Linked DNA regions of Homo sapiens. The protein of the gene in region 1 interacts with the protein of each later gene in a pairwise test. Each region holds a gene or a part of one and is shown in the gene's direction. Other genes may lie near its edges.

Region 1 (7,079 bases):
GCTGATATTTGAGTAACACCAGTTTGCTAAAACTAAAAAGATGCCTTTGTGTCACCTTACGTAAAACAAGACTTGTTGCCTATAACTGATCTCAGCATCTGCCTCCCCCTCTTCTCACTCTGTACCTACATTCAAAGCCCCCTCTTCACAAGCCCAACGCCCCCATCTCCCCAACAGTCCCCTCCACTGAGGAGGGCCGTAGTTCTGTTGAGAAATTGTCAGAGTTGATAAGCTAAGGGTACAGTCACAGATTTTCTTGTTCAGTCTGCTTAACAGAAAGGCTGTTCCAACGGTAGGGGGAGAGAAAGGGACCGTGTTTCATTCCTAGTGTAAACATTGGAAGTCCAGGTATTTTGAAGATTACCTCATTTTTCAAAGGCGAAACCCCTCAGTCTTCACCCCAGGAAAATGGGACGCCTCACGCCTCATTTTAGCTGGGTCTCCTGAGTAGCTGAGACTACAGCTAATTTTTATATTTTTTTGTAGAGACAGGATCTTGCTATGTTGCCCAGGCTGGACTAGAACTCCTGGGCTCAAGTAATCCTCTTGCTTCAGCCTCCCAAAGTGCTGGGATTTTAGGTGTAAGCCACCACACCTAGCCGATATCAGTTTTTGTACGTTATTTTATATCTGTTCATTTTCCTCATCTCTTGACTTGTTTCCAGTAGTTTCTACATTGAAAGCAATTGGATTAAGCTGGAGAATGGATTTCTTGATTTAATCCAGAGGCACTTTATGTACTAGTTTATTATTTTCTTTTTCTTTTTCTTTTTCTTTTGAGATCGAGTCTCGCTCTGTCGCCAAGGCTGGAGTGCAGTGGTGCGATCTTGGCTCACTGCAACCTCCGCTTCCCGGGTTCAAGCGATTCTCCTATCTTAGCCTCCCGAGTAGCTGGGATTACAGGCACGTGCCACCACGCCTGCCTAATTTTTGTATTTTTAGTAGAGATGGGGTTTCCCCATGTTGGCCAGGCTGGTCTCGAAGTCCTGACCTCAGGTGATCCACCCGTGTCAGCCTCCCAAAGTGCTGGGATTATAGGTGTGAGCCACTGGGACTGGCCTATTTTCTATTTTAGTTTATCAAAAAGAGCACTCAGAGATAAGAACCCTTTCACAGAGAGTGAGCCTTGGGTAGTGAAATGATACCAGATTTGGAATCAGAAGTCCTGATGCCTGGCACAGGTCTGCCCATGGCTGAGGATGACTCTAGGACAGTCACTTCCTGTCTGGGCCTCAGCTTCTCAGATGTTAAGGCCCGCCATCTCCACCATGTGTCTTTATAGGATGTATAGATAGAGAAGGCCTGTGTTTACCTATTTGCACATTAGCTCTTTGCCTTGGTCTTGACATTTTATTTTTATTTCATCACTTTGTTGCATGTACTGTATTTTTGTAAAAAGATTCAGGGTGTAAATAAATAACACATTCACCATTTCTTCCATAGATCCCAGCTCTCCTGTTGGCTTCGTGCTTGGGGTAGATCTTCTTCACATATTCCCCCTGGAAGGAGCAACTTTTCTGTGCCCTGCTGACGTGACTGACCCGAGAACCTCACAGAGAATCCTCGAGGTGCTTCCTGGCAGGAGAGCAGATGTGATTCTGAGCGACATGGCGCCCAATGCCACAGGGTTCCGGGACCTCGATCATGACAGGCTCATCAGCCTGTGCCTGACCCTTCTCAGCGTGACCCCAGACATCCTGCAACCTGGGGGGACATTCCTTTGTAAAACCTGGGCTGGAAGTCAAAGCCGTCGGTTACAGAGGAGACTGACAGAGGAATTCCAGAATGTAAGGATCATCAAACCTGAAGCCAGCAGGAAAGAGTCATCAGAAGTGTACTTCTTGGCCACACAGTACCACGGAAGGAAGGGCACTGTGAAGCAGTGAGGATTTCTTGTGCCATTTTCATAATGGTCATTAGCTCCTTTTAAGCTAGAAACGTAGCCTGAGCTCCTGAAGAGTTCCTGGGAGATTTGAGCTGATTTTGGAGATGGAGCAGGACAAGTGGGGAGTCTCTCTCTCTCTTTCTCTCTCTCTCTTTTTAACCAAAAAGAGATGACAAAACTAAGTTCAGGGGCCATGGAAAATGAAAAAGTCCGCTATATTGTGATTTGGGAAGAGAAAGTTATCAAGAGAAAGAGGTGAGGATGGAAGGATGGAGAAAAACAGACTGTGGGAAGGATCAGAAGGAATCCGCCGAGGCAGGGATGGGTGTGCCCATGTGTGCCTTGACGGGACTTCATCTTATAGACTGTTAAACTGTCACACACAAACAGGCTTTCCACCCCTGCTCTGAGAGCACCACGCACAGATTTCCAGTTCTTAGTGTGGCTGTTTAAAGTAGAAAATCTGGGGGCTGGGTGAGGCCACTCATGCCTGTAAACCCAGGGCTTTAGAAGGCTGAGGCTGGGGGATTGCTTGAAGTCAGGAGTTCAAGACCAACCTGGGCAACATAGCAACACCCCCCATGTCTACAAAAATGAAAAACCAAAAAGCAAACCAAAAGAAAAATCTGAAATTTCCATCTGGGGATTAACTTCTGTCTTTCTGGTGAACAATATAGCAATTCACGCATTCTTCAAGCAGCAAAAGTTCCCGGAACAATTAGGGAAGACGTATGGTCTGAATTTATCCAGGCAGTGGGTCTGCTTTGGTTTTTGCTGGAAATTTATATCAGTGTCTGGGCTCCCAAGAACATAAATGTAATTGCCAAAGCAAGCAGTGATGTGGTGTGTTTATTTTCTTTTACTCATCTAGGAACTTGACGCAGCTTTATATTTAATAAAATAATAGAGATTGCATTATTTTAAGGTACTTTCATGCTTTGAAGTTTTGTTTTTTTTAAACTGGCTTCCTCAAAGCCATTTCCTGGAGGTGTACTCATCCCTCAAGAAGAGTTTGTTGACTATGATTAAATTCCAAGGACCAGTGGGGGAAGTCTGGAAACCCAGGAATCTCCATCAGGAATCTGGGGCTCTGTCCAGCTCCCCGAAGGAAACTGCGGGTCAGATGTTTTGATTTTTTTTTTTCTTTGAGAAACAGAATCTCACTCTGTCACCCAGGCTGGAGTGCAGTGAAGTGATCTTGGCTCACTGTAAGCTCCACTTCCCGGGTTCACGCCATTCGGCCTCAGCCTCCCGAGTAGCTGGGACTACAGGCGCCCATCACCACGCCCGGCTATTTTTTTTTTTTTTTTTTGTATTTTCAGTAGAGACGGGGTTTCACCGTGTTAGCCAGGATGGTCTCGATCTCCTGACCTCGTGATCCGCCTGCCTCGGCCTCCCAAAGTGCTGGGATTACAGGCGTGAGCCACCGCGCCCGGCCGCCAGATGTTTTGACTTTTCATTTTATTTCTGGTTGCAGTCAGGTTGTTAAGTCCAGGGACTCTTGCCCTACTCCACCTCGTTCTCTTATTCCATTTCATTCCCGGGGCACACAACTTGGAAGTCTTTCTCTGAAAGAAGGAAAATTCATTGCAGACCCTTAGGAACAGCATCTTCTTAGAGGGAAGCCAGGGGCTGGGCAGAGACGGGAGGAGGAGAGGAAGAGAATATGGAAACGAGTAAGGCACACTCTTCTCAGGAAGGCTCCAATTTGAAGGATAGACAAAGGTTACCATAATAATGGTGGGGCCTGACCTCACCCCATTGGATGCTGTGCCCTGGCTTGCAGAGCACTGGGAAGGTAGCCTAGTAGCATAAATTGCATTTCTAGTGGGCCCAGAAAAAAGCAAAATAACGGATTGATTCAAGCTGATACTGAGTAGCAAAATTTTGGGAAGAGTCAACGGTGCAAGTTTGTCCGAGGAGGCTGCCGTGGGCGCGGCTATTCCACACATTACGGCGCGAGGCGAAAGCCTTAGTGGAAGCGCGTCCTGCGCAAAGCCGGGGGGCCCCCGACTGCGCCTTGGCTCAGCCTTCGGTTCCGAGTCCTTTCCGTGCGGAGTCTCCCAGGGGTGGCGGCTCCGGGTGCGGACGCGGAGTCCCCAGGATCAGCCGGTGCGCAGACTCGGTTCTTTACGGCCCGATTGCCACGCAGGTCTCGCGAGAGCGCAGGCGCAAGTGTCGCGATAAATGGGCGCCGGCGGAGCGGAGGGAGATCCGAGCGGCGGCGGCAAGCTGGCTGCGAGCGGCTGAGGTAAGCGGCCCGGCTCGCGCGGGCGGCGGGGTCCCGGGGTCCCGGGGGTCCCGGGAATGGCAAGGGAGGGGCCGAGGGCCCGGACCGGGTGTGCTCGCCAGGGTGGGGCACAACGACCCAGACCCCGTGCCTCAGGACCCCGCGCCCGCCCCGTCTCCCATGGGCGCGCTCTCCTCTCTGTGCTCTCCCCTCCTCTCCCCACTCCCCTGTCCCCACTCCCCCTTTGGGCTGTGCTGGGGACAGCGGGCCCCTCGCCTGGGTCTCCGCAGCCGTCCCTTGTGCCAGGGCGGGCGGCCGAGGGGCGCGTGCTCGTGGTCCCAGCCCCGGGGTCCCGCTGCCTACCGTGTGGGTCCCCGGGCTAGGGTGCCGGCGCGCCGAGGAAGGGGCCTGAGCTGGCGCCTGGTGGAGAAGTCGGGGCTGCAGGGGCTCTTGGCATCCTGGTGGCTCGCGCCGGTCCGCTCTCAGGAAGGGGGCGTGTGGGCCCGGTTTCCCCTCGGGGATGGCAAGGGCCACCCTGATCTCGTTTGGGCAATGGAGGAATTGGGCTGTGGAGCCTCCTTCCAGGCGGGCCTGCCTCTGCGGGGCTGGCAGCCTGGGGAGCTCAGGCCTCTGCTTGCACCAGGCCAAGGTTCTTGTTAAATGGAAACTCAGAAACTGTGCAGCTGCAGAAGTTCTACCTTTGGCTTTTAAACGCGCTTGGCTGTTCCCTAGTTGTGGCTGGTGGGCCGGCCTGCCATGAGCCCATAGTAAGCGCCGGTGTTGGGGGTGCAAAGTTCTTTACTGCGGTTTGTCTTCAGCCTTCCAAAGCCAGACAGACCCAAGTTCCAATCTCCGTTCTGTAACTTTTTGAAGCTTCGGTTTCATCATCTCTAGAATCTGTGTAAAAAGACCTAATTCACCACCCTGTTGAGACTGAGCTTACAAATATAGTGCTGGTCAACCTGCAGCCGTATTCCCATCATCTAGCGGTGGAAGACTTGAGGGATATTGGCCCCGTTCCCCACAACTTTGCAAGTAGATTTCACTGTCATGAGTTTACAGATGAGGAAACTGAAGTTCAAGAAGTCTCGGTGCTCGGAAATGTCAGATACCTTTCTTTCTGATACCTAGTTGAAAATAGTAGTAGTACTTATTAATGTCACTAGAAATAAACAATGAAAATGAGCACAGCTGTGATGATCATCATCTTTACTGTCACTGTTGCATGCCTCGTTTCTGATTCCCAGAGGCCAGATTTTTTTTTTAATTAATTATTATTATTTTTTGAAACGGAGTCTTGCTCTGGCACCCAGGCTGGAATGCAGTGGCGCGATCTCAGTTCACTGCAACCTCCATCTCCTGGGTTCAAGAAAATCTCCTGTCCCAGCCTCCGGAGTAGCTGGGATTACAGGTGCACGCCACCACATCTGGCTTTAGTAGAGATGGGGTTTCACCATGTTGGCCAGGCTGGTCTCGAACTCCTGACCTGTGGTGATCTGCCCATCTTGGCCTCACAAAGTGCTGGGATTACAGGCATGAGCAACAGTGCCTGGCTTATGTTTATTTATTTATTTATTCATTCATTTATTTATTTTGAGACACTGTCTCACCCCGTTACCCAGGCTGGAGTGCAGTGGTGCGGTCTCAGGTCACTGCAACCTCTGCCTCCCAGTTTCAAGCGATTCTTGTGCCACAGCCTCCTGAGTAGCTGGGATTACAGGCGCACACCACCACACCCGGCTAGTTTTTGTATTTTATTAGAGGTGGGGTTTTGCCATGTTGGCCATTCTGGTCTTGAACTCCGGACCTGCCTCCGCCTCCCGAAGTGCTGGGATTAGAGGCGTGAACCACCCTGCCTGGGCAAGAGGCCAGACTTTGCTGTGAGTGCTCCTGGTAGGTAGTTTCAGGCATCAACTGACTGGATTCAGGAATTCCTAGAAACCTGGGAAAGCATCATTTTTGGTTTTGGGTGTGCCTGTTGAGGGTGTTTCCAGAGGAGATGAGCTTGGGAGTCTGAGTGGACCAGGTGCTGAAGATCCATCCTCAGAGTCAGGGGCAGTATCTAAGAGCCTGGGGGCCTGGAGAGGACAAAAACAGAGAAAAGGCGAATGTGTCCATCTGCCTGCAGGAGCTGGGATACACTCTTCCTCTCCTCTCCTCAACAGCAGCACTCCAAGCTCGCCGGCCTTTGGTCTCCAGGACTTGTCCCAGCAGCCCCTCGAACTGAGAATTACACCATCGGACCCCTGGCTCTGAGGCCTTCAGACTTGGACTGTGTCACACTGCCAGGCTTCCAGGGCTCCAACTTGCAGACGGCCTGTTGTGGGACAGTCTCTGTAATCGCGTGAGTCAGTTTCCCCAATAAAGCCCTTCTCTTGTGTCTGTCTCTGTGTCCTGTTGGCTCTGTGTCTCTGGAGAACCCTCTTACAGTGCAGTTGGGGGACGTGCCACCTGAGTGCTGAGCCCCGCCTCCCGGGCGCCAGCTGTCCATCTGTCCATGTGCAACTGAGACTCAATTGGTGGCTTGCTGGTGGGGATTTGGTGGCATGCTTCCTTGCTTCCATTTTTTGTCTGGTAAATTGGCAGCATGGCTCCCAGTTGCCATTGAAGAATGTGGTTACAGGCATGGGTGTATTATGAGCTCCAATGTGCGTTAGGGGAGTGGGGCTGTCCAGAGGCTCTGCTGACTGCACGGCTGATGGCACGTGGAAAGGCTGCCCCTGACCAGTCCTTTGTCTGTCCCCGGAAGGAAAGCAACCATGGAAGACCTGGGGGAAAACACCATGGTTTTATCCACCCTGAGATCTTTGAACAACTTCATCTCTCAGCGTGTGGAGGGAGGCTCTGGACTGGATATTTCTACCTCGGCCCCAGGTTCTCTGCAGATGCAGTACCAGCAGAGCATGCAGGTGAGTGGCATGTGCCTGGGTGGGAGTCTGCTCTGGGGAGACCCTGGGCCCGGGC
Region 2 (7,229 bases), on another chromosome or scaffold:
TTAAGCTTGGCTCCTCCAGGACCCCAAGCCTCTACTCATGGTCCATCCCGCTCCCAGGAGATGCCCCTTGTCCAGGAGTTGCCACTGCTGAAGCTTGGGGTGAATTACCTTCCGTCCATCTTCATCGCTGGGGTCAATTTTGTGCTGCCGCCCGTGTTCAAGCTCATTGCTCCACTGGAGGGCTACACTCGGAGTCGCCAGATCGTTTTTATCCTGCTCAGGTTCCAGCCTCACGGGGATGGCTGGGAATGATGAAGGGTGGGGGCGGTCAGAGGGATGTTGGCGCTGACAGGTAAGACACGGAAATCCTGCTGATACCGAATCCAGGGATTCAAATCCTGACTCTGTTGGCCAGGTGCAGTGGCTCACACCTGTAATCCCAGCACTTTGGGAGGCCGAGGCTGAGGTCAGGAGTTCGAGACCAGCCTGACAAACATGATGAAACCCCGTCTGTAGTAAAAATACGAATATTAGCCCGGCGGTAGTGGCTTCTGTAGTCCCAGCTACTCGGGAGGCTGAGGCAGGAGAATGGCTCGAGCCTGGGAGGTGGAGGTTGCAGTGAGCTGAGATCGCGCCACTGCACTCCAGTCCGGGTGACAGAGTGAGACCCTGTCTCAAAAAAAAAAAAAAAAAAAAGAAAGAAAGAAAGAAAGAAATCCTGATTCTGTCACTGGGCCTCAGCTTCATCTGTGAGATGGGTTGAATGCGGGCGCGTTCCACTGAGAAGGGAACTGCCACATGGTGGGTACCGGGTCAGGGCCCATTCTCTGCCTTCCCCCCTTCAGGACCGTGTTTCTTCGCCTCGCCTCCCTGGTGGTCCTGCTCTTCTCTCTCTGGAATCAGATCACTTGTGGGGGCGACTCCGAGGCTGAGGACTGCAAAACCTGTGGCTACAATTACAAACAACTTCCGGTGAGAACGGCATGGGTGTGCGTGGGACTCTTGGGTCCCTGAAGGAAAGATGGAGCTGGGTGGGTCCAGACTCTTGGTTTGGGCGGAGAGGGGAGCTTGGGGTGCTGGAACACTCTCCCAAGGGTATGAAAGTTTGAAAAACGAGGACCCCCAGAGAAAGTATTGACAGGGTCTCATAGGCTTGCGATGTGGAGACTCGGACGCGTGGGCCTCCAGGTGCCCGGGTCCCGAGTTCTTTCTGATATATTTCTTCCTTCTTCAGTGCTGGGAGACTGTCCTGGGCCAGGAAATGTACAAACTTCTGCTCTTTGATCTGCTGACTGTCTTGGCAGTCGCGCTGCTCATCCAGTTTCCTAGAAAGTGAGAGCCCCGCCCCTTGCTGTGGCCCCGCCCCTCTAGGACGAGGCCGTGCCCCATCGCGCTGTTCTTTTCACCGCGCACCTTTTTACCATTCCCGCCTCTGCCTGCTCCCTTTGCTTGCCCTAGGTCCGCAGATCTCCCCGCTCCCCGCCCTTGTTTTAGTGGGTTACTTCCCTCTGGCCCCGACGGCGGCGACATCTGGGTCCCTTCTAGTCCTCAGGACCCGCCCTCTGGACACACCCCCTCCACGTGGAGTCCTGAAAGTCCCGCCCCCCCCCCCCCCACCACCAATACGCATGCTTCCTATTGGCGGGCGGGGCGGTGGAGGCGTGGAAACTCCAGGCCGCCACTCCCCTGACTCCGGCCCGGCCCCGCCCCGTCCTTCAGGCTCCTCTGTGGCCTCTGTCCTGGGGCGCTGGGTCGTCTGGCGGGGACCCAAGAGTTCCAGGTGCCCGACGAGGTGCTGGGGCTCATCTACGCGCAGACGGTGGTCTGGGTGGGGAGTTTTTTCTGCCCTTTACTGCCCCTGCTTAACACGGTCAAGTTCCTGCTGCTTTTCTACCTGAAGAAGGTAAGGGGTAGGGGGGACCCTTGGGTCTGAGGCAGGAGGTATTGGGGCCCGCACTCCTGGGTCAAGGGCAAGGAAGATCCTGGGGGCCTGGATTACTCGGTCCTGAGAGAGGAGGGGGTTGGAGGACAGACTACTGCATCTGAGAGGAGGGGTCTAGGGCATTCTGACTTATATGTCTGAGGATCTGGGGACTCAGACTCCGGGGTCCTAGATGAGGAAGGGGCTCAGACTCCTGGTTCGGAAAAAAGGAGAGGCAGGTAGGCCGGGTGCAGTGGCTCACGCCTGTAATCCCAGCACTTCGGGAGACTAAGGCGGGTGGATCACCTGAGGTCAGGAGTTTGAGACCAGCCTGGCTAACATGGCAAAACCCCGTCTCTACTAAAAATACAAAAAAAATTAGCCGGGCTTAGTGGCAGGCGCCTGTAATCCCAGCTACTCAGGAGGCTGAGGCAGGGGAATTGCTTGAACCAGGGAGGTGAAGGTCGAAGTGAGCCAAGATCGTGCCACTGCACTCCAGCCTGGGCGACAGAGCGAGACTCCGTCTCAAAAAGAGAAAACAAACAAACAACAACAACAGCAAAACAAATTAGCCGGGAGTGGTGGTGCACACCTGTAATCCCAGCTACTCGGGAGGCTGAGACACGAGAATAGCTTGAACCCGGGAGGGGAGGCTGCAGTGAGAGCCACTGCACTCCAGCCTGGGCGACAGAGCGAGACTCTGTCTCAAAAAAAAAAGCCTGGGCGACAGAGCGAGACTCTGTCTCAAAAAAAAAAAAAAAAAAAAATGGAGGCACAGACTCTTGTGTTTCAGAGCCCTTTTCTCCGTGCCTTCCCCCACCAGCTTACCCTCTTCTCCACCTGCTCCCCGGCTGCCCGCACCTTCCGGGCCTCCGCGGCGAATTTCTTTTTCCCCTTGGTCCTTCTCCTGGGTCTGGCCATCTCCAGCGTTCCCCTGCTTTACAGCATCTTCCTGTAAGTGCGAGAGGCTCCCGCCTCTCTCCCTCCCTCTCTCCCCATTCAGTGTTCAGACTCCTGGCACTATGTGAGCCCAGCCTGTCTTGACTTCAGGATCCCGCCTTCTAAGCTGTGTGGTCCATTCCGGGGGCAGTCGTCCATCTGGGCCCAGATCCCTGAGTCTATTTCCAGCCTCCCTGAGACCACCCAGAATTTCCTCTTCTTCCTGGGGACCCAGGCTTTTGCTGTGCCCCTTCTGCTGATCTCCAGGTGAGACGGCCCAGACTTCTGGGTCTGGGTTTGAATGCGTGTGATCTGGGGGCCACCACCTGCGTCCAAGAGAGGAGAGGCTTGGGCGTGGGAGCAGGCAACGTACTGAGTCTGAGGGAGGAGGCCTAGGCTCCTGGACTGCTGGGTCCGAAGGAGGAGGTGGGCGGGACGTAGGACTCCTGGATCTGAAGGCGGAGGGGCTGGGAGACTGAACTCCTTGAGCCCAGACGAGGAGGGGCTTAGGCGTCCACATCCCTGGCTTCGAAGGAGCCAGACGTTTGGATATAATGGAAGAGCGTGTCAGGAGTGGCTTCCGTTCCTGTCTCCTTCAGCATCCTGATGGCGTACACTGTGGCTCTGGCTAACTCCTACGGACGCCTCATCTCTGAGCTCAAACGTCAGAGAGAGACGGTGAGCCAGGCGGGTCCCTGAGAGGGCCCCTGGGGAACATGGAAAGGGGTTGGGGAAGAGGATTGTCTCACCTCCACCTCTCTTTGCCCCAGGAGGCGCAGAATAAAGTCTTCCTGGCACGGCGCGCTGTGGCGCTGACCTCCACCAAACCGGCTCTTTGACCCCCGCAGCCCACGTCCCGCTTTCAGACCCCAGGCCCATTGTAAGCCTAGGTCACAACATCTGTAAACTAGGAGAACTGGAGAAGACTCCACGCCCTTCCAGCTTTGGTATCTGGAGATTTCCAGGGCCCCTCGCCGCCACGTCCCTGACTCTCGGGTGATCTTCCTTGTATCAATAAATACAGCCGAGGTTGCTGAGCGCGCTTTGAAATCTGCGTCCTGAAGGTGGGGGCAGGGCTACAGCGGGGCAGGAGCCAATCAAATGTACGGGCATGTTTGTCGGTGCAGAGCGCTCTTCCGCAAGGAGACTTGTCGGTCATGTCGGCCAATCGACGGCCGCATCTGGTAGCATCAGGGGCGGGCCAACTTATGATTGGTTCAGATCTGTGACAAGAGGCGGTTGCTAGGGGATACCACGAGCCGAACGCCTAGCATTCGCTGTGATAAAGGGCGTCTCAGCCAATCACCTGTCGCTACAGGCCAGGGGGCCGTACCAACTAATTCGGAACCAATCCGCGGTCGAAGTAGGGACAAGAAAAAGGGGGGCATCCTCTCGCCAATCGGAAGTGCAAAGAGGCGGGCGTGCCAGTCCCTGGACAGCTACGACGCCATGAATATCTTGCCCAAGAAGAGCTGGCACGTCCGGAACAAGGACAATGTCGCCCGCGTGCGGCGTGACGAGGCCCAGGCCCGGGAGGAGGAGAAGGAGCGTGAGCGGAGGGTGCTGCTGGCTCAGCAAGAGGTAAGCTCGGAAGCCGGCAGGGCGGCGCTCCGGGGCCCAGCGCGCAGGCGCCGCGGTTGGGGGCCGGAAGCGGAGGCGTTGCGCAGGCTCAATGTGCCCCGTGTGAAATTCGGGACCAGGCGCCGATCCCACTTTCGAGGACGTTGCCCCGCAAACCTTGTGCCCACTTCCACGAAACCTTCCTTGATCTCGCCCTCGTCTTAGTTTTTCCCCCACTGATGTATTTCACATGGCTGGAACAGTGTCTAGCACAAAAGAGAAGCTTAACATTTAATGAATCCGTGAACCCTTGGACAGTTCAAGGAAATTCGGATCACTTTTTAGTTTGCCTGCACAGCCTATTTATTGAGCATCTACTGTATGCTAACTACATGCCGTGCACCTGACTTGCGGAATCCCCAATAAGCACTGTTCGTTCTTAGAGGGGCACTGTCATCTCTGTTGCACGAAGTGAGATGGCTTCAGTGAGGGGAAGGCACATTTTAAGGAGAGGCGGACAGCCAGGCTCCACGCCATCGGGCGAGCCCTTTCGTGCACCGCCCCCTAGACACATACACACAAACACGGGCTTTCCGTATGGCTCTTTAAATCTGTTTGGTGTACACCCAACTTTCATTTCCTTAGCTAGTCTGATCCTCCGCCGTGGGTGGGAGGTAGTCTAGGTTTTTAGAATCTCAGTAGGCTGCTGAGCGCTGTTTGAAATCCGCGTCCTGAAGGCAGGGGACAGGGCTTCAGCAGACTTGGGGTAGTCACTTGGAGCCATGGCTAGAATTCAGATCGTCTGGCCTAATGCATACCTTTATGGCTGTTTTAATTGTCTCACTTGAGGTTAGGAACCCCTTTGGTTTAGGCCAGGGACCTCCTCCCATACATCCTTGATGACCCGTGGTTTACTATTTGAAAGGGAGTTTACAAAACCCAGGCGTTGCCTCATCTGCCTACCCTCACCCCCAGCTAGGACAGGTGCCTCTTTTAGGCGCCTAGTGCTCCCTTTCTCATAACCCCAGCACCCTGGACTGCCATTTTCTGTGGTGGGCACCAGACTCACAGTTCTTGAATTACCTCTAGGTTCTGAATGTCCTGCCTATAACTTTCTCCCCAGGCCCGTACAGAATTCCTACGGAAGAAAGCCAGACATCAGAACTCACTGCCTGAGCTTGAAGCAGCAGAGGCGGGAGCCCCAGGTTCTGGCCCTGTGGACCTGTTTCGGGAGCTGCTGGAGGAAGGGAAAGGAGTGATCAGAGGCAATAAAGAGTACAAGGAAGAAAAGCGACAGGAGAAAGTAAGCTGGCCTCACCCACTTCATCAGAGGGGCCATGAATCGAGTTGGAGGGAGGGGGCACTTTAGCCATTGGTTGTGACCAAGGTCAAACAAGAGTGAACACACAGAATTTAGGACCATACCAAGGCATGACACTCAAAAAGCGTTGGCTATTGCCGTCTGGGCGCCCACAGGGGTTGGAGGTAGATGCTAGAGGTCCCCAGCTGCTGGGCAAACCGCTCAGTTCTCCAAACTGGAGGAGTCTCAAACCTGATGGGCTTTTAAAAATTTAAATCAGCCGGCTGTGGCTCACGCCTGTAATCCCACCACCTTGGGAGGCTGAGGCGGGTGGATCACCTGAGGTCAGGAGTTCAAGACCAGCCTGGTCAACATGGTATCTCTAAAAATACAAAAAAAATTAGCCGGGCATGGTGGTGCGCGCCTGTAATCCCAGGGAGGCTGAAGCAGGAGAATCGCTTGACCCAGGAGGTGGAAGCTGCAGTAAGCCGAGATTGCGCCACTGCACTCCAGCCTGGGTGACAGAGCGAGACCCCATCTCAAAACAATCAAACAAAAAGTGAATCAATCGCCTCTTGCTTTTTGGCTAAGATCAAGTGTAAAAGGTACATCAGTGGCTGTGCATGGTGGCTCACGCCTGTAATCCCAGCACTTTGGGAGGCCAACGTGGGTGGATCACCTGAGGTCAGAAGTTCAAGACCAGCCTGGCCAAACATGGCAAAACCCCGTCTCTACTAAAAATACAAAAATTAGCTGGGCATGGTGGTGTGTGCCTGTAATCCCAGCTACTCGGGGGGCTGAGGTAGGAGGATTGCTTGAACCTGGGAAGCAGAGGTTGCAGTGAGCCGAGATCGTGCCACTGCACTCGAGTCTGGGCAACAGAGCGAGACTCCATCTCAAAAAAAAGAGGTACATCAGCTCTTGTCATTTATCTGCTGTCTCTGGACTTGCTGACCCCACCCATCGCTCCTCTGCTTTGCTTGATCCCTTCAGGCTTCTCTTCAAGTCTCTCTGCAAAGATGCCTGCCTCTGAACACTCAAGTGGCTCCACTTGTCCCCTCCTTCCCCTGCTGTTACTGTACCTGCTACTGTCCCCCCAGGGGGAGCTTTGCCTCTGTTTGTCTTCCATCCCCAGCACCTGGTCCAACTGGTTCATAACAAGCCTTAGATACCTGTTCGCTTAGATACCTGTGTCAGGGAGACACACCTGACACCTTGAAAGATTATATCACATCTCTTGTATTTCCTGGCCCCCTCAGGAGAGGCAAGAGAAAGCTCTGGGCATCCTGACATACCTGGGCCAGAGTGCAGCGGAGGCACAGACTCAACCCCCTTGGTACCAGCTACCCCCAGGGCGAGGGGGCCCCCCGCCCGGCCCAGCCCCAGATGAGAAGATCAAGAGCCGTCTGGACCCTCTGCGGGAGATGCAGAAGCATCTGGGGAAGAAGAGACAGCACGGCGGTGATGAAGGCAGTCGCAGCAGAAAGGAAAAGGAGGGGTCTGAGAAGCAGCGACCCAAGGAGTAAGAAGACCCCACCTCGGCAGACCAGGGCCCAGACCTTCAGGGCT
Region 3 (7,179 bases), on another chromosome or scaffold:
TTGGGTGAGCCAGCTGGCTGCCATGCGACTGCCAGTTTCTCCAATGGACATTTGCACCTCGGTGTTTCGGTGAGTCGTCCCACCGCCTTTGCTCATTTTTCCTCCTTCTATTTTTAGGGTTTTTTTTTTAATGTTCCCGGAAAGGCGGCACCTCCCAAAGGTGGGGACATCTCACTGGCCTAGGGGCTTACTTTTCAGAGTGACTCAGGCGGGTAGAAGTTACTAGGGCTGGCAGGGCCAGAGCCTGTTGTTTTTCAAAGATAATCTGCAACTCTGAAGAGTGGGGTGAAAAGATTTCTACACAGTGTACATTCTACAGAATTCTAGTTTCTCCGCGGGCGCAGACTTTTCCGCCCTCTAGTCTAGCGTGAAAACAGTTCGACCACTGGATGTGGGCGGCGAAGCCCGCACCCTAGAGCGCGGTGTCTCCCTGCAGGAGGGAGCTCCAGCCCGCGCCGCCGCGGCCGCTTCTGGCCTCCTCGGGAACCGAACCGAGCATACCTCAGTGCTCTCCTAGAAGCGGCTCCTTTTCCCCTTCTTACTCGCGAATGGCGAAATGAATAGCCGCGCGGGATTTTACCCGTTTGTGTAGTGGACTCTGAGGGGGCACCAGGTACCGAGACGGAAATCTTTGCGGTAAGAATAAAGTCAGGTAAAACGCCTGGTACAGCCGCCCTGCAGATGTCCCAAGAGTAGGTCCCCCGTACACTCTTCCCATTAAGTTCTTAGGGGGAGGACAGGGAAGGCCCTTTGGTCTGGCTGGATTGATCAGGGAGGTATGCGCATATGTTTGCCCTCTGGACATTTGGGGAGGGGTTATGGGGGAGTTGAAGGCAAGAGGCAAAATCAGGTAGAACAAACAACTACAGCCAAGAGCGGCACTCTCGGGGAATGGGCACACGGAACTCCGCGCAAACCTCTGGCTTCTCAAACCTACAGCCCTGCCCTTTCTCCCTTTGTAAACAAAATGTGAATTACAGACTTACTGCCATCCAGACACTATTTCTCCCTAAATCTGGCCCTTAGTTCTCACTGGGATCCACGTTTTCCTCCGCTCTCCAGCTCCTCTCCATCAGGCCATGTCACACACAGCAGCCAGGCGGGGCCAAAAAGTTTTAGCGCGAGACCTCCTGGCTAAAACCTGGCCAGCGACCTCGACAACACATCCTAGGCCCAGGTGAAGGGGGTTTAAGCCCTTGCATCCAGGTAGCTTCCGGTTCTGCAGTGTGCTTGGTGCGGATTTGGGAAGTCTCCCTTCCTTCTCTCCTAGCCACACCCAGCCCACACAAGGGCAGAGAAAACCTGGTGGAAAATAATGACTCGGGCGACACTGCCCCTCTTCCTTCAATTCCATCCCTACAATGGTCTGCAAAACTATTCATGTTTGGGGGTCCAGATATTAAGTGGGGGTGGGTACATGTGGCTGAAAGAACACAGATTAGGCCTTCAGGCTGTGCCAAGCCAGGCCGGGGGCCTTTTTGCGTGTCCCGACATGGCAGTATGGTTGCTGCGTGCACTCCGCATAGCCCGTGTTGTGCGTGGCGGGCTGTCGCTGCAATGTGCAGCCCATTGACACTGATGGATGCGCCAATGGTTGGACGGACAGATGTTAGGGCGGATCGCACAGCGCTCGGCGCCTGAGCGGGGGAGGGCCAGGCAGCGACCCAGCGGCGGCGGCCGGCTACGCGGAGACCCGAGTTCAGGCCGCGGCCCGCAGTGGGAGGGGGCCGAAGGAACAGAGGTTTGCAAGAACAGCGAGGGGATGGAAAGGAGGAGAAAAGCGCGACCAGGGAGAACTACACGCTTCCGTGTGCGGCGCCCCGCGCTGTGCACACGCCGCACCGGGCGCGCCTAAGTGGGAGCTTCGAAGGTGAGCTGGGAGCCGGCGGGAGCTGACCCCGTGCGGCGCAACCCGCCTCCAGGCGACAGGAGCTCAGCGCGGCCACCAGAATGGTGAGGCCGCCGGCGGTGTCGGCCAACTCACCGTTTCCTCGCTTGCAAGAAGCGTTTCACGCTCCACGGCCGCGTCTCCCCGGCCTGGAGGAGTAGCGGTTCTGGCCTCTGCGGCCGCGGGCACCCAACGCGCACGGCGCCTCAGCCCCCGAGTCCGCCAGCCCGAGAGCCCCGCCGCAGCCCGCCTCGGACTCCCTGCCCCGCCTGGGGTCCGTACCCCACAACTCCGAGCGCTCCTGCGCGCGGAAAGGCGCTGGAGGCGGCTTTATAGCCGGGGAGGCCAGCGGCGGCGCATCTGCATCCTGGGAGACGTCTGGACCCAGCCCAAGCCCGCAGGCTGGGCGAGCGGAGACTTTTGATCTTACCGTGTGGGTGAGATCACTGTCTCCCGGTCTAAAAGAAAAGAAAGCATGCTGTGAACTTTTGAAACAAACTTGCAAAAACAGTCGTAGAGAAAAAATAAAAAGGACACAGGGCAGAAAAAGAGGGAGAAAGAGACTAAAAAAAGAAAAAGATAAGGGGAGGGGGAAGGAAGGAAGGAGAGAAGGAGGAAGAAGTCTGGGGTTTGCTGCTCCAGGAGCGCTCAGGCAGCCGGTGCTGGAGCGCGGGGCGCCCGCCCTCGCCGGGACTGTCGGCCTCGGGGCCTGCGAGAGCGCCAGAGCCCCAGCCGGCGCGCCCGGGCGCAGGGCCGCCTCGGGGATAGTGGGCCCGGAGGCCGCCCCCGCGCTCCAGCAGCCGCCGCCCGGCAGCGCCCGGAGCCGGCCCCGGCGCGGCCGCCCCATTCCCGGCCTGAGAGCTGGCCCAGGGAGACGCAATCGAGCCCGCAGCGCATCGATGCGCCGCCGCCCGCGCCGCTCGGGCTCCGGCTCCCGCTCAGCCGCCGCCGCCCGGGGGTCGCCCGCATGAGCTCCGGCCCACCCGCGCCCTCACCGCCGCCCGTAAGTGAGCCCGCGTCGCCCCGCCGCCCACGCCGCCCAGCCAGCTCCTTCTTGCCGCGGCCAGTCGGCCGGGCCGGCCCGGAGCCTCAGCGACCCCGATCACCAATCAATAATCAATCCCTCTAGTCCAGCAGCCCCGGCAGGCCGGGCGCGGGACACGGCGCGGCGGCCCCCTAGGCTCTCGGGGGGAGCCCCTGGCGGGGGATGGGCAGGGGAGCCCGGTTTCCTTCTCCCGCCCCCGTCCCGCCCTAGGATCGGCCCGCGCCGTGGATGGGGGGCGCGGCCCGGCTCCCGGGGGCGAGGGGCGGGGTGGAGGGACCCTGATCATCCCAAAGTCAGGAGAGGAAACTTGAAGGAACCCCCTCCCACACCGACCCCCGGGACGGGCCCAGGAAAGTTTGTCCGGGGAAAAAAAATTGGGGGAAGTGGCTACGGCGGGTCCTGGGGGAGGAGCTGGGTGGCGCGGGGTCTGAGGGCTGCCCCCACCCGCCCCGGCCCGCGCCCGCCTCCTCCCTGGAGGGGGCCTGCCCGTGGGCTCTGGCTTCCCCGGGGGACGCCAGCCCCGGCCCGGGGACCACGCTGGGGGCTCCGGAGTCGGCGGGTGGAGAGGAGTGCGAGCCGGGTGGGGCAGCTGGGGGGTGGCTGGGGACGAACGCTGGGTGGGAATAGGGGTGGGGGGTAACGAGCGCCCCGGGACGGGCTCGGCGGGGCTGGCGCCGCGCCCCCGCGTGTGCGCACGGGGCGGAGGCGGAGGGGCGGCACCCCTTTCGCTGGCGGGGCGGGGGTCCCACGCGGGCCTGGGGCCGGGGGCGGGGGCGCGGCGCCCCCGCGGGCGGGCGATTGACACGATCATCTCCTTTTCCTTTAAGCTTGCCTGTTGCCGACGCCGCCGCTCCAGCCGCGCCACGGGCAGAAGACTGGACCGCCGAGCCCCGGGCCGCGGCGGCGGCTGCGCGTCCCCCCGGATGCCGTGACCCCCGGCCTAGGGGCGGGGGCCGGGGCAGTACCGGTCCGGGCCGCTCCCGCGCTCCTCCTCCCACCGCTCTGCCCGCCCTCTCCCCGCCCCCCAGCCCCGAACCCCGCGCACCTCGTCTGGGGACGGGGCGGGGGGGGGCAGGGCCGCCGCTCCTCCCCGCCCCCTCCTCCTCTGGCCTCTGGAGCGATTTGTCAAACTTCCCATTCCGCCGGCAGCGCGGTCCTCCTCCTCCTCCTCCACCTCCTCCTCCTCTGCCTCCTCCTCCCCCCCGTGCTCCTCCCTCCCCGAGCCTCCCTCGCCCGCCCTCCTTCTTCCCTCCGCACGTTCGGGGTTCGCGGCGGAGCGCGGCGCGGGGGGGACGCGGAGAGCCTGGGCGCAGCAGCATCCTGCGGGCGGCCGCTCTCCGGGGGGGAGGCTGAGAGCAGGCCCGCCTCGCCCCCCCGCGGGCCCGCCGCCCCCTCCCTCCCTGTCCTCAGCCCGGCAGCGGCGGCGGCGGCGGCAGTGGCAGTCGCCGGAGAAGCATCATGCCGAGGAGGAAGCAGCAGGCGCCCCGGCGCGCAGCAGGTACGAGCCGCTTCCCCTTCCTTCTGCTCTCCTCCTCCTCTTCCTCCGCTCGCCCCGCGCCTCCAGCGGGCGCGACCCCGCTCCTCGCCCCGCTCTTCTGCCCGCACTGAGTAACTCCGGGCGCCGCTCTCCTGTTTGGGTGCGTGCGCCCGCCTCGGGTACCGGGCGCCCCCCGGACGCCCCGCCGCGCTCTGCCCTCTTCCCTCTCGCACCCATTTGGGGAGCCGCTCGCGGAGCGCGCTGAGCCGCGCCAGGTCCCTACCTCCTCAGCTCTCCGGCTGCAGAGGGAATGGGAAGCAACCCCGGCCTGGCTCTTTCTGTGGGTGGCGGGCGGGGTCACCTGAGTTCCCCGGGACATCTTCCGCGTCCTCCGAGCGGCCGACCGCCGGGGGACTGCCTGGTGTCCGCCGAGCCAGGGAGCGCGAACGAGTGAGCGAGCCGGTCCCCTCGGCCACCTTAGTACTAACACGATTGATTCCTCATTTCTTGGGCCCAAACTGGGCACAGCGGTGGAACCCGGAGCGCACAGGGTCTGGGTATTGTCAGATGACTGTCAAGTCCATGTTAGATGCTGGCGTTTCCTTCTCCCCTGTTTGTGTTTCCTCGCCCCCACCCCCTCCTTGTACTGCTGCTCCCACCCTCATCTCCGCATAGCACTTAGTTCTGGGACGTGTCTGAGTACTTTTTTGTTCCTCCTTTTTTTTTTTTTTTCTTCTTCTTTAACCGGGAGTGTCAACTCCTGTTAAGACTGAGCCGATTTTTTTCTTTTCTTTTCTGGAAAACGCATCATTGAAAACAAAACAAAAACCACACACATAACATTATTTTGCAATAATGTCGGTTGGGGGCATGTTGCCTGGAAGAAGGGTTTCTGGCCCGTTGCCATCCTTGATTTGATGACTGATTGATCGCCCGTCATGCTGCTGCCTTTGATCTATTCATTCCCAATAAACATCAATAAATCACTTGCAATAGTGAGGCCAAGCTCTGTGACGTCAGGAGGGCCCTGTCAGTGCAACTTTGGGATTTGGGGCGGATTGCCGAGAGGACCACATATGGACGTGATGTATTTTGATATGAGTAACACTCAGATGTGCAGAGGTTCAGATGCTCCCTGAAGGGGAGGGTTAAGTGGGGCTTCCTTTCTTTTCTTTTCTCTTCCTTTCTTTTACTTCTCTTTTGATGTTAAGAGGGAAGGGCAGAGAGTAGGGTCAGGGCATTGGCTGGTGCCCATCTTGGAGGAAGGCGTTGTAGCCATGGTGCCCTGAGTGCCCATAATTTCCATCATGCCAGCCGGCACTGCCAGGGGACCTCACACGTTGGCTGCACTCTGCACTCCAGACCCCTTACACGGGGTCACAGAGAAGGAATGATAATTCTCTCTTCTCCCAGAAATGTACTTGCCTGCCAGTGTCTTCAGAAAATCTCAGAAGAAAACAGGGTTGGTTTGGGGCTTAGGATGCAGGTTTTGCTCTCTGTCCTCGGTGTTGCCCAAATTTAGAAAGTTTGAAAATTCCAGGAGTGATTGTAGGGAGCTTGCCGCCTCCCTAGTTAACCTCCTGGAGCTTGCTTCTTGCCCGTCCCACCTTCTACTTTAAATTCCAGGCTCAAGCAATGAGCTTATCTACCCAAAATAAACTCTGAAACTTTGGAGGAATCCTTCACAAAGTTGAGTAGTAGGAATGTCTTGGGCTTCTTCCAGTCTTTGAAATTTTTTTTTTCTTTCCTTTTTGGATACACATTTTAAGGTATGTGTGTGCCTCCATCCAATGAACCATATGTGATTACATCTTTACATTTGGTTCAGAACTCTCTCTCTAGTTCATCTCTTCGGTTGCACCCTGCCAATCTGAGACTCGTATTTGATAGCTTCCTCCAGAAAAATATCAGAGGAGGAGGGAACCTGCTGTTGGCTTTATTTATTTATTTATTTATTTATTTTTAGAGCAACCTGTTCACTAACCTTTTCACACTTTTTTTTTTTTTTTAAAGAAAGCCAGCCAGGAAATCTCAGGTCAGTTAAGAAAAATTCATTATATAAAAAACTTGACTGCAGGACTAATAGGAGATGGAAGAATGGTTTTGCTCTATCAAAATGACCCGTCAAAACGACTTTGTTTCATATTTGATTTAATTGTCTCTCTCCTGACAGGCACATTCATCAATAGCTTAATGGTCAATCAGAAGCTGGCAGCATGAGTGCTTTATTTCTTTCCCATACTCGGGTTTTGGATTTACTTTATCAGAATGCCTCTGCCTAATGGACATGTGGAGGAGGGGGTGGAGGCGGACTGAAGAGCTACTTATTTAAGAAGAGTGGAGAGAAAAAAAAAAAACTCCACATTTAGGCTGGTGATAAGTATGCACAGAGGTTTTTTTTTTGGGGGTGGTTTGTTTGTTTGGATGGACCAGAAACTTCCCATTTTTTTCTCCTCTTTTTTAGTTTTCCCAGCTGCAAGTTATAAGGTTCATGCCAGCTTTTGTGGCATACTGGGAGTGATGACAAATTGATTGCTTTGTACTGATAGAGAGAGAGAGTGGGGAAAAGAAAGATGTCTGCTGATTGGTAACTGGAAATCCAGTCCCCAGCAACCTTGAGAATACTCGAGAATTTTTTTCCCCTCCAAACTGAAAGGTCCGCTCAGCCATAAAAAAAGAAAAGTTGTTTTGCCAGCTTCATTAGTGTTCACCTAATTAGCTGTAAACCTGATGGATTCCTGACAGCTTTAATGATTGGAGATGACAAGC
Region 4 (7,842 bases), on another chromosome or scaffold:
CCTTGGCCACACTAGTCAGATCCTTCCCCTCCCACTCCTGCCACCCTGCTCCTGCCCTGTCCCATAATCCAGGTTGAATGGGGGTGGGGATTTGGGGAGCAAGGAGGGCTCAAAGAGATGGAGATAGGCCTGTGTCAGGCCAAAGTGCAGGTTGGGCACTGGGAGTGGGGCCAACCATAGAGCCCCCACCCCTGCCAGGGTGTGGGCTGCTCGAGGAAGACAGGAGTGGCCTGGGGCATGTGTGAGATTGGCCTGTGGCCTCACCCTGTGGGTGGCACCAGCTCTGGCCATGGCTTTCCCCTTTGCCCCAATTCCTGGCTCTTCTGAAGCCAGATTTGGCCGAGGGCCCTCACTGGGTACTGAGACAGTTCCAGAAAGGACTCTAGAGCCAGCCGAGTCCCTCCACTCTGCTTCCATCCAAGTTCTTGGAGGGGACCAAAAAGGCCCACACTGTCCCTATTCTCCCCCTACCCCCTCCATGGGTGGTGAAGTGGCTGGGGGCGCAGCATGGCAGGGTGGGTGGGCCAGCCTCCAAAGCCAGCGCTTTCCTTGTGCCACCCGCTTCGTGCAGCAGCCAATACACAGTGGATACTCTCATTTCCATTTTTCCTATGGAGAAACTGAGGCTCAGAGAGCTGACATAACTTGCTCCAGTGGGATTTGACCTCACATCTGACACCAGGTCACTTGCTCTTTCTGCAACTGTGTGCTTAACAGAAAACCAGAGGCCCCGATGTAATCCTGGGTCTGCCTTCATCTTTCTGTGTGGCCTTAGGTGAGCCGTGTTGTTTTGCCAAGACTCAGCGGATTCATCTGTAAAATGGGGACATATCTGATTAGTTATGTGGTTATCTGTTTAGCATCTGCCTTTCTTGTTAGACTGGAATCTCCCAGAGGGCCTGGCTGTGTCTCTGCCTTTCACCGCTGTGTTCTCAGCACATAGCATTTGCAATAAGTTGTCCCATTTGCTCTTCTCAACATGGCTGTGAGATAGGTATGTACCACTGAGCCCATTTTACAGATGAGAAAACTGAGGTTCAGAGAAGTGAAATGATTTGCCCAAGGTAAAGGTTAGTGGAGCTGAGACTCATGCCGCTGTCTTCTCAAGCAGGTGTGATTTTGGGCATCTCTACTTCAAGACAGGTGTTAGGAGAGGAGTTGCAGGCATCTTAAGTCATGAGAAATGATAATAGGTGGGGCTGGGAATAAATTGAGCTCCAAGCAGAGCAAAGATGTTATTTTTATTTGCAAAGCTATCTATCCTTCCAGCTATAGCTGATGGAATCCTCCAGGCCCCATTAGTCCCCACCCCTCATACATCCCCTAAGCTGTGTCCTCTGCCCTGCCCAGGACTGGACTCGGGCCATATCCGTGGTGCCGTCAACATGCCTTTCATGGACTTCCTGACTGAGGATGGCTTCGAGAAGGGCCCAGAAGAGCTCCGTGCTCTGTTCCAGACCAAGAAGGTGGATCTCTCGCAGCCTCTCATTGCCACGTGCCGCAAGGGAGTCACCGCCTGCCACGTGGCCTTGGCTGCCTACCTCTGCGGCAAGCCTGATGTGGCCGTGTACGATGGCTCCTGGTCCGAGTGGTTTCGCCGGGCCCCCCCAGAGAGCCGTGTGTCCCAGGGAAAGTCTGAGAAGGCCTGAGCCGTGACCTCTTCTGCTTACTGTAACTGCGGCCGGTTTAGTGACCCCATGACTTACAGCCGGTTCTTACCTCTTAGGTGAAGGAGATGACATGTTTTTAGAATTGCTGTGCAAGGCTCACCCTCTCTCTGTCAACACTGGAATAAACTTTGCCTTTTCTGAGTAGTGTGTTTGCCTGCCTCTCTCTGGGCTCCATCCTTGCCCCCAAACTTCCATCTCTTTCAAACTCCGGAGACTCCACCAAGGACAGAGACCACCATAGCCCCTCTGGCTGGGGAAGCCATACCGAGGACACCACTTTCACCCAGTTTTGGCAGAAACAGCCTCCTGCTGTCCCATGTCAGGTGGACTCTGTCCCAGAGCATGCTGGGTCCTACCAGGAAGACAGGTGGGAAGGGAACCAGAAAGCCAGAGAGCTGAAGCCCCAGCTGCTGTAGCCCCAGCCTCCTGGGTAGGGGCGGAGGGACAGCTGGCTTTCCCAATATGTCCATAGAGGTGTCACACAGACCCAGGGCCTCTCAGAAGAGGCCATGCTCAGGAGCAGGTGAAAGGAAGGTGGCCTCTGTCTCGAGCACCTTTTCTGGCTCAGAGTAAGACCCCCTGGGGAGCAGTGGAGGGAGGGGCTGGAGAAAGAGCTTTGGCCCTGGGAGAAGGTCCAGGCTCTGGCAGGTGAATCAGGAAGCCACAGTAGAAGAAAGCAACCTGATAGCTTGGCCCCATGTGGCTGGATTTCAAGTTTCCCAGAAACAGCCTCTCTTAGACCTCCTTTGGGGTTGCAAGAAGAATTCCGGGCCCCACCTACTGGGGACTACCGGCTCCCCACTATCCAGCCTTCCCAGTGAAGACAGGATCCTGGAGGGCCGGAGACCAAGTCTGTCCTTGGCTTGGCATTGGGGCAAATAGGTGCTCAGGAGATGCTGAGGAGGTTGGTTTTGGGGCTGGCAGGTTGGGTGATGGGGCTGAATGCTGAGGCCGGTGGGACCTGTAGTGGTGGGACTGGTAGTCTGGAGGGTTGACCCCTCTCACTTCCATGCCACTAACAAAACAGTCCTCTTCCCAGCTCACATGTGGCTCAGATCCTACTGTGGGAAGAAGAAGCAAATATACACAGTATGTCAGATGGCAATAAGGTGCAATGGTAGAAAAGGTTGGAAAATAGGAGTAGGGAGTGTGGGGTGGGCTGGGATGCTTTTTAAGAAAAGGTGGTCTGGGAAGGTGAGCAGAGTCTTGAAGGAGGTGAAGAGGCAAGCCATGTAGGCATGTGGGGGAAGGAAGTTGCAGGAGAGGAGAGGGAACAGCCCGTGCAAAGGCCCCGAGGAGGGACTGTGCTTGGTGTGCCCAAAAAACAGCAGAGCCTGGCATGGCAGGGACCCAGGGAGCACTTGGGAAAGTGAGAGGAGCAGAGGTCAGAGAAAAATGGTGGACAGGTTGGGTAGGGCCTTGCAGATAAATGGGAGGATGTCAGCTTTTACTGTGGTTGAGCTGGAAGGTTTTGTTTAGAGGGGTGACATATGATCTAATATAGGTCTTAACAGGATTGCTGGGCTGTTGAGTGAGAAGACTGTCAGAGGATATGGTGGACTCCAGGGTGGTCCCCATATTATCTGCCCCCTCGTGTTCATGCCCCGTGTGACCCTCTCCCTTTCACTGCGGGTGGGACCCGTGACTTGCTTTTAACCAACAGCCTACGGCAAAGGTGATGGATGCCACTTCTGTGACTATGGTACACAACATTGTAATGCCCCATCTTGCAAGGGGACTCCCTCTTTGCTGGCTTTGATGAAGTCAGTGTCATGTTGGTGTTGGGGGGCCCACATAGCAAGGAACTGAGGATGGCCTCTGGCTGACAGCCAGAGAGAGCCTGAGACCCTCAGTCTAACAGACTGCAAGGAACTGAATCCTCCCACAGCCACATGAGCTTGGAAGCATATTCTTCCCTAGTGGAACCTCAGATGAGACTGCAGCCCTGGCCAATACTTGGATTGTAGCCTGCTAAGACCCCAATGCAGAGAACTCAGCTAAGCCATGAGTAGACACCCGACCCAAAGAAACTGTGAGATAACAGTTGTATGTTAAGCTTCGAAGTTTATGGCAAGATTGTCGTGCAGCAATAGATAATACTTAGGCAAGAGATGAGGGTGGCTTGGACCAGGGAGTAGGGGGAGTTGTGGAGGTGGACGAAGGCATCCAAATCTAGTGTACTTCGAAGGACTTGCTGATGGGTTGCTTGCGGAAGTAGCTTAGAGTTTTGTGATGTCTCTCTCTGTGCAAGGCAATGTGCTACATTTTGCAAAAAATTGTTTTATTCGCCCATCACCCTTATCCTTAGTGTTGGGTGATATCTGTTTCACATGTGAAGGAAGTTCAGCTAAAGGACTTGGCCAGTCTCTTATCTAATAAGTGACAGGCCCAGATTCTGGGGACTCCAAGTTTAACCACAGCACTCTCTGTTTCCTGGGGAAATCCTGAAAGGCTGGGCTTGCAGGAGGCGTTCACTATACCCACTCTTTGTCCAGGCTGAGCAACAGCCAGACAGGAATGGGCCAGTGCTGGCACCAATGACTTCTGCCTCCTTCTTCTCTGCAGAAAAGAAGTCACTTAATTTTGTTGATCTCCTTCTGTAGCCCTTGTTGTTTAGGAATAGGAGAGAGGACCCTTCCTTTAGTTTTACTCCCAGGTCCCTGATCCCTGGGTGTCCAAATCAGACAGCTCCAGATGCATCTTTCTCCTTCCCCATTGACCTCGACCTACATTTATGCTGTTATACACATCCATGCCTTTAATATTCTCATCCCTTCAAAACTGTTAAGTTCCTAGGCATCCTTCAAGATCCAACTCAAATGGCTCTTTCATAAGTCCTTCCTCCTTTTTCCTACACAGAGCTAGTTCTTCTCCCTACTTAGTGCTTTGAGCTCCCAAGAACATCTTTTGCACTTGGTAGCATCTGAGCCCCCTGTGCCTGGCACACCTGGCATGTAGTGGGGGCTCAACTGACATTCTAGAGTGGATGAGAGAGTGAACAATAATTGAAGCCCCTCCTGCCTTTTCCTGGCCTCAATCCTGGCTTTCTCCTGGCCTCTTTTCCCTACGGGTGGGCCTATCAGCCCTCTGAGGTAACAGAGCCCTGTGTATAGTGATCACCATGGCAACTCCAATGAACATCTTGGGGAGGGCCACTTCCCAGCAACCATCCATTGGTCTTCACCAGTAGTTCTGCAGTGGGGATCTGCACTTCTGGGCTTCAGCACACATCAGTGTGGTTCACGTGTTTCCTGCTGTTATGAAAGAGATTGGAGAGGTGAGGCAGAGACTTATGAAGGGCCAGGGTTCTTCCAGGACATGGGGTTTCATCTTCCTTCTCCCCATTCAGAGTTGCTTGTGAGTGAAGACTGCCTAGACTGGACTTACCTTCCCGCCCTCTTTGACCAAAGTCTCTTGGGATCTCTCTCTCTGGGTCAGAAACTGGAAGTGAGTCCACACTTCCATTGTAGCCCGTCCAGACTGCTGTGGACTGGCAGTGCACTGGGACGTACAGAGCTGCCGTGGGCACGTCAGGTTGGTGGCTGGGGATAGGAGGAGAAAGAAAACTTGGAGCTAACTTGAACTTCACCTAGCTTGAAGATGTGCAATTTAATTTTAGCCCCACCTGGTGAAGTCCTGTGTCTTTTCGGAGCCTCATTTTCTCCATCTGTGAAAGAAGATAAATTAGTAGTGTCTCCGAACACCTTACTGGGTATTTGTGAAGACCAGACTAATTTACCAGATGTGAGAATGCTTGACATGGACTTGTGTTAGTTATCTCTTGCTGCACAACAAATCACCCCAAAACTTAGTGGGCTTAAGACAACATTTACTATCTCACAGTTTCTGTGAGTTGGGAATACCGGTGGAGTGTTGGTGATTTTTCTGTCCCAGGGTCTCTCACAGGCTGCAATCAAGGTGTTGCTTGGGTCTCTAGTCTCATCTCAAAGCTCGACCAGAGAAGGAACCCATTCACATGGCAGGATCCAGCTACTCTGGAGCTGTTGGCAAGAGGCCACTCTGAGTTCCTTGCCCTGTGGACCTCTCCATAGGGCATCTCACAACAGGGAAACTGGCTTCTGTCAGAGAAGATGAGCTGAGGAGAGCTGCAGAGAGTGTGTGAAAAAGACAGAAGTTGTAGTCTCTTATAAGTTCATCATGGATGCAACATCCCTCATTTTTGCCACATTCCATTCATCACTATGTCCAGTCCACACCAAAGGGGAGAGAATTATACCAAGAAACAGGGATCATTGGGAGCCATGTCAACTGCCTGCCACTCTCTGCCCTCTGGCCCCCAATAATGTACATCCCTTCCACATGCAAAATATAGTCATCCCCTCCTAAGATCTTTAAAATTCTCATCCTATTAAAGCATCAGTTTAAAAGCTAGAATCTGGTCATATAAATCAGCTCCAGGTGTGGCTGAGGCTCCTCCAGTGTCGTTCCTTAAGTACAGCTTCTCAGATTCAATTCTTCCCCATCATAGATCTGTGAAACTAAGTAATTTGCCCTGAACACACCTAACATACAGTGATGTGATAGGCATAGGATAAGAACTAGTGACATTCCTATTCAAAATTGAGGAAAATGGAGACATGGAGTCAATGTTCCATAGCGGTTTTGAAATCCAGCCACACAAATGTTGGACATTCCTTGATTAGGTTTCAAGGCCTGGGGATAATTCTCCATGGCTCTCAGCTCTGCCTTCTGGACTCTTGCATCCACTCTCTGACTTGTCTTTTTTATTTTTATTTTTTGTTCAATGGTATCTTTTCATTTTGTACTGTCTCTATCCCTTTTACCCGAAGTTGCCAACATTTTGCTGATGTTATTTTCTCAACAGTAAAACTTACAGGGGTTCACTCCATTGAACAAAAGTCACACCCCTTTTTAACTGAGGCTCCTGTTGAGGAGCCTTAAGCTTCCTAGAGGTCCTATGGTTCTGTTAAGAGGATATATCAGGCATCTCTTTAATCTCTTTAAAGCACCCTTTGTTTGACAGAGTAATACCCTCATCCTTTGATCTTTCTGAAGTTTTAACAACAGGTCGCACAGTCACACTCCTGGGCACACTTTCCAGACAGCCTTCTGAAGCTATTTCTTAATTTTAGCATCTTTTGGGATCTGGAAAGGATGAGACTTCAGAACCATTAAGTACTGGCATCTTTTTGTTTAACAGTCCCTTCTTCAATTCATCACCTTCCTCTCACATTTCACTACAAGCAGCAAGAAGAAAGTAAGAGGCAACTACCATCTTTTCTTTGGAACTCTTTAGCTAAATCATTCAGTTCATTAGTCACATAACTGCAGATGACAGTGTCACTGTTTCTGCCACTACATAACAAGGGTCTTTCTTCCACTATTTCTAGTAATATATTCCTCACTTCCATTTGGGCCCTCACTCACTGCATCTTCCAACTCCAGATTTCTGCTTAAAAAAAAAAAAAAACTGTTTAAGGTGATTTAGGCTTTTTCTATCATGCTTCTCAAAATCCTTATAGACTCTGACCACCGCTTGGTTCCAAGTTCAGTCCCAAATTTTTAAGTATTTGTTATAGCAACACCCCACTGTTAGTACCAAAATATGTATTAGCTATGTATTGCTGCGTAACAAATGACCATAAAGCTTAGAAGTTTGACACTGTATGTTTAAAACAGTACAAATTTATGATCTCAGAACTTATAGGAGTCAGGATGCTCACTTGGCTGGGTCCTCTGGCCCAGGGTATCCCACAGGCTGTAATGAAAGTGTCATCCAGGCTGTGTTCTCATATCAAGGCTCAACTGGGGAAGGATCCACTTTCAAGCTCATTCAGGTGTCAGGATTCATTCAGTTCTTCAAAGACTGTTGGACTCAGGGCTTCTATTCTTTATGAGCTTTTGGCCAGAAGTCACCCTCAGTTTCTTGCTCCATGGGCTGCTCCACAGGGCAGCTCAAAACACGGCATTTGCTGTCATCAGAATGAGCAAACCAAGGAGAACCAGGGAAAGAGAGCAAACAAAACCGAAGTCACAGGCCGGGCACGGTGGCTCACACCTGTAATCCCAGCACTTTGGGAGGCTGAGGCGGGTGGATCACTTGAGGCCAGGAGTTAGAGATCAGCCTGGCCAACATGGTGAAACCCTGTCTCTACTAAAAATACAAAAATTAGCCAGATGTGGTGGTGCA

What was found.
Region 2: the proteins of MAD1L1 (region 1) and LENG1 interact in binary tests that used the Homo sapiens proteins (3 or more experiments, as listed by UniProt).
Region 3: the proteins of MAD1L1 (region 1) and TSHZ3 interact in binary tests that used the Homo sapiens proteins (3 or more experiments, as listed by UniProt).
Region 4: the proteins of MAD1L1 (region 1) and CIMIP4 interact in binary tests that used the Homo sapiens proteins (3 or more experiments, as listed by UniProt).

Annotation. Positions count from the first base shown.
Region 1 is NC_000007.14:2,229,929-2,237,007, reverse strand, and holds the start of MAD1L1 (mitotic spindle assembly checkpoint protein MAD1), read left to right. Parts: upstream 1-4,062; 5' UTR 4,063-4,136; intron 4,137-6,243; exon of another isoform or gene 6,244-6,280; 5' UTR 6,281-6,459; intron 6,460-6,864; 5' UTR 6,865-6,874; coding exon 6,875-7,024; intron 7,025-7,079. Other genes in the region: MRM2 (rRNA methyltransferase 2, mitochondrial), read left to right, coding at 1,444-1,886. UniProt on the Homo sapiens protein: Component of the spindle-assembly checkpoint that prevents the onset of anaphase until all chromosomes are properly aligned at the metaphase plate.
Region 2 is NC_000019.10:54,156,716-54,163,944, reverse strand, and holds the start of LENG1 (leukocyte receptor cluster member 1), read left to right. Parts: upstream 1-4,223; 5' UTR 4,224-4,249; coding exon 4,250-4,381; intron 4,382-5,483; coding exon 5,484-5,663; intron 5,664-6,919; coding exon 6,920-7,182; intron 7,183-7,229. Other genes in the region: voltage-gated chloride channel TMC4, read left to right, coding at 58-221, 786-912, 1,175-1,272, 1,660-1,843, 2,685-2,815, 2,912-3,067, 3,400-3,478, 3,571-3,639.
Region 3 is NC_000019.10:31,346,432-31,353,610, reverse strand, and holds the start of TSHZ3 (teashirt homolog 3), read left to right. Parts: upstream 1-4,174; 5' UTR 4,175-4,391; coding exon 4,392-4,431; intron 4,432-4,693; exon of another isoform or gene 4,694-7,179. UniProt on the Homo sapiens protein: Transcriptional regulator involved in developmental processes. Functions in association with APBB1, SET and HDAC factors as a transcriptional repressor, that inhibits the expression of CASP4.
Region 4 is NC_000022.11:37,004,834-37,012,675, reverse strand, and holds the start of CIMIP4 (ciliary microtubule inner protein 4), read left to right. Parts: upstream 1-4,824; 5' UTR 4,825-4,947; intron 4,948-5,019; exon of another isoform or gene 5,020-5,204; intron 5,205-7,842. Other genes in the region: TST (thiosulfate sulfurtransferase), read left to right, coding at 1,351-1,649.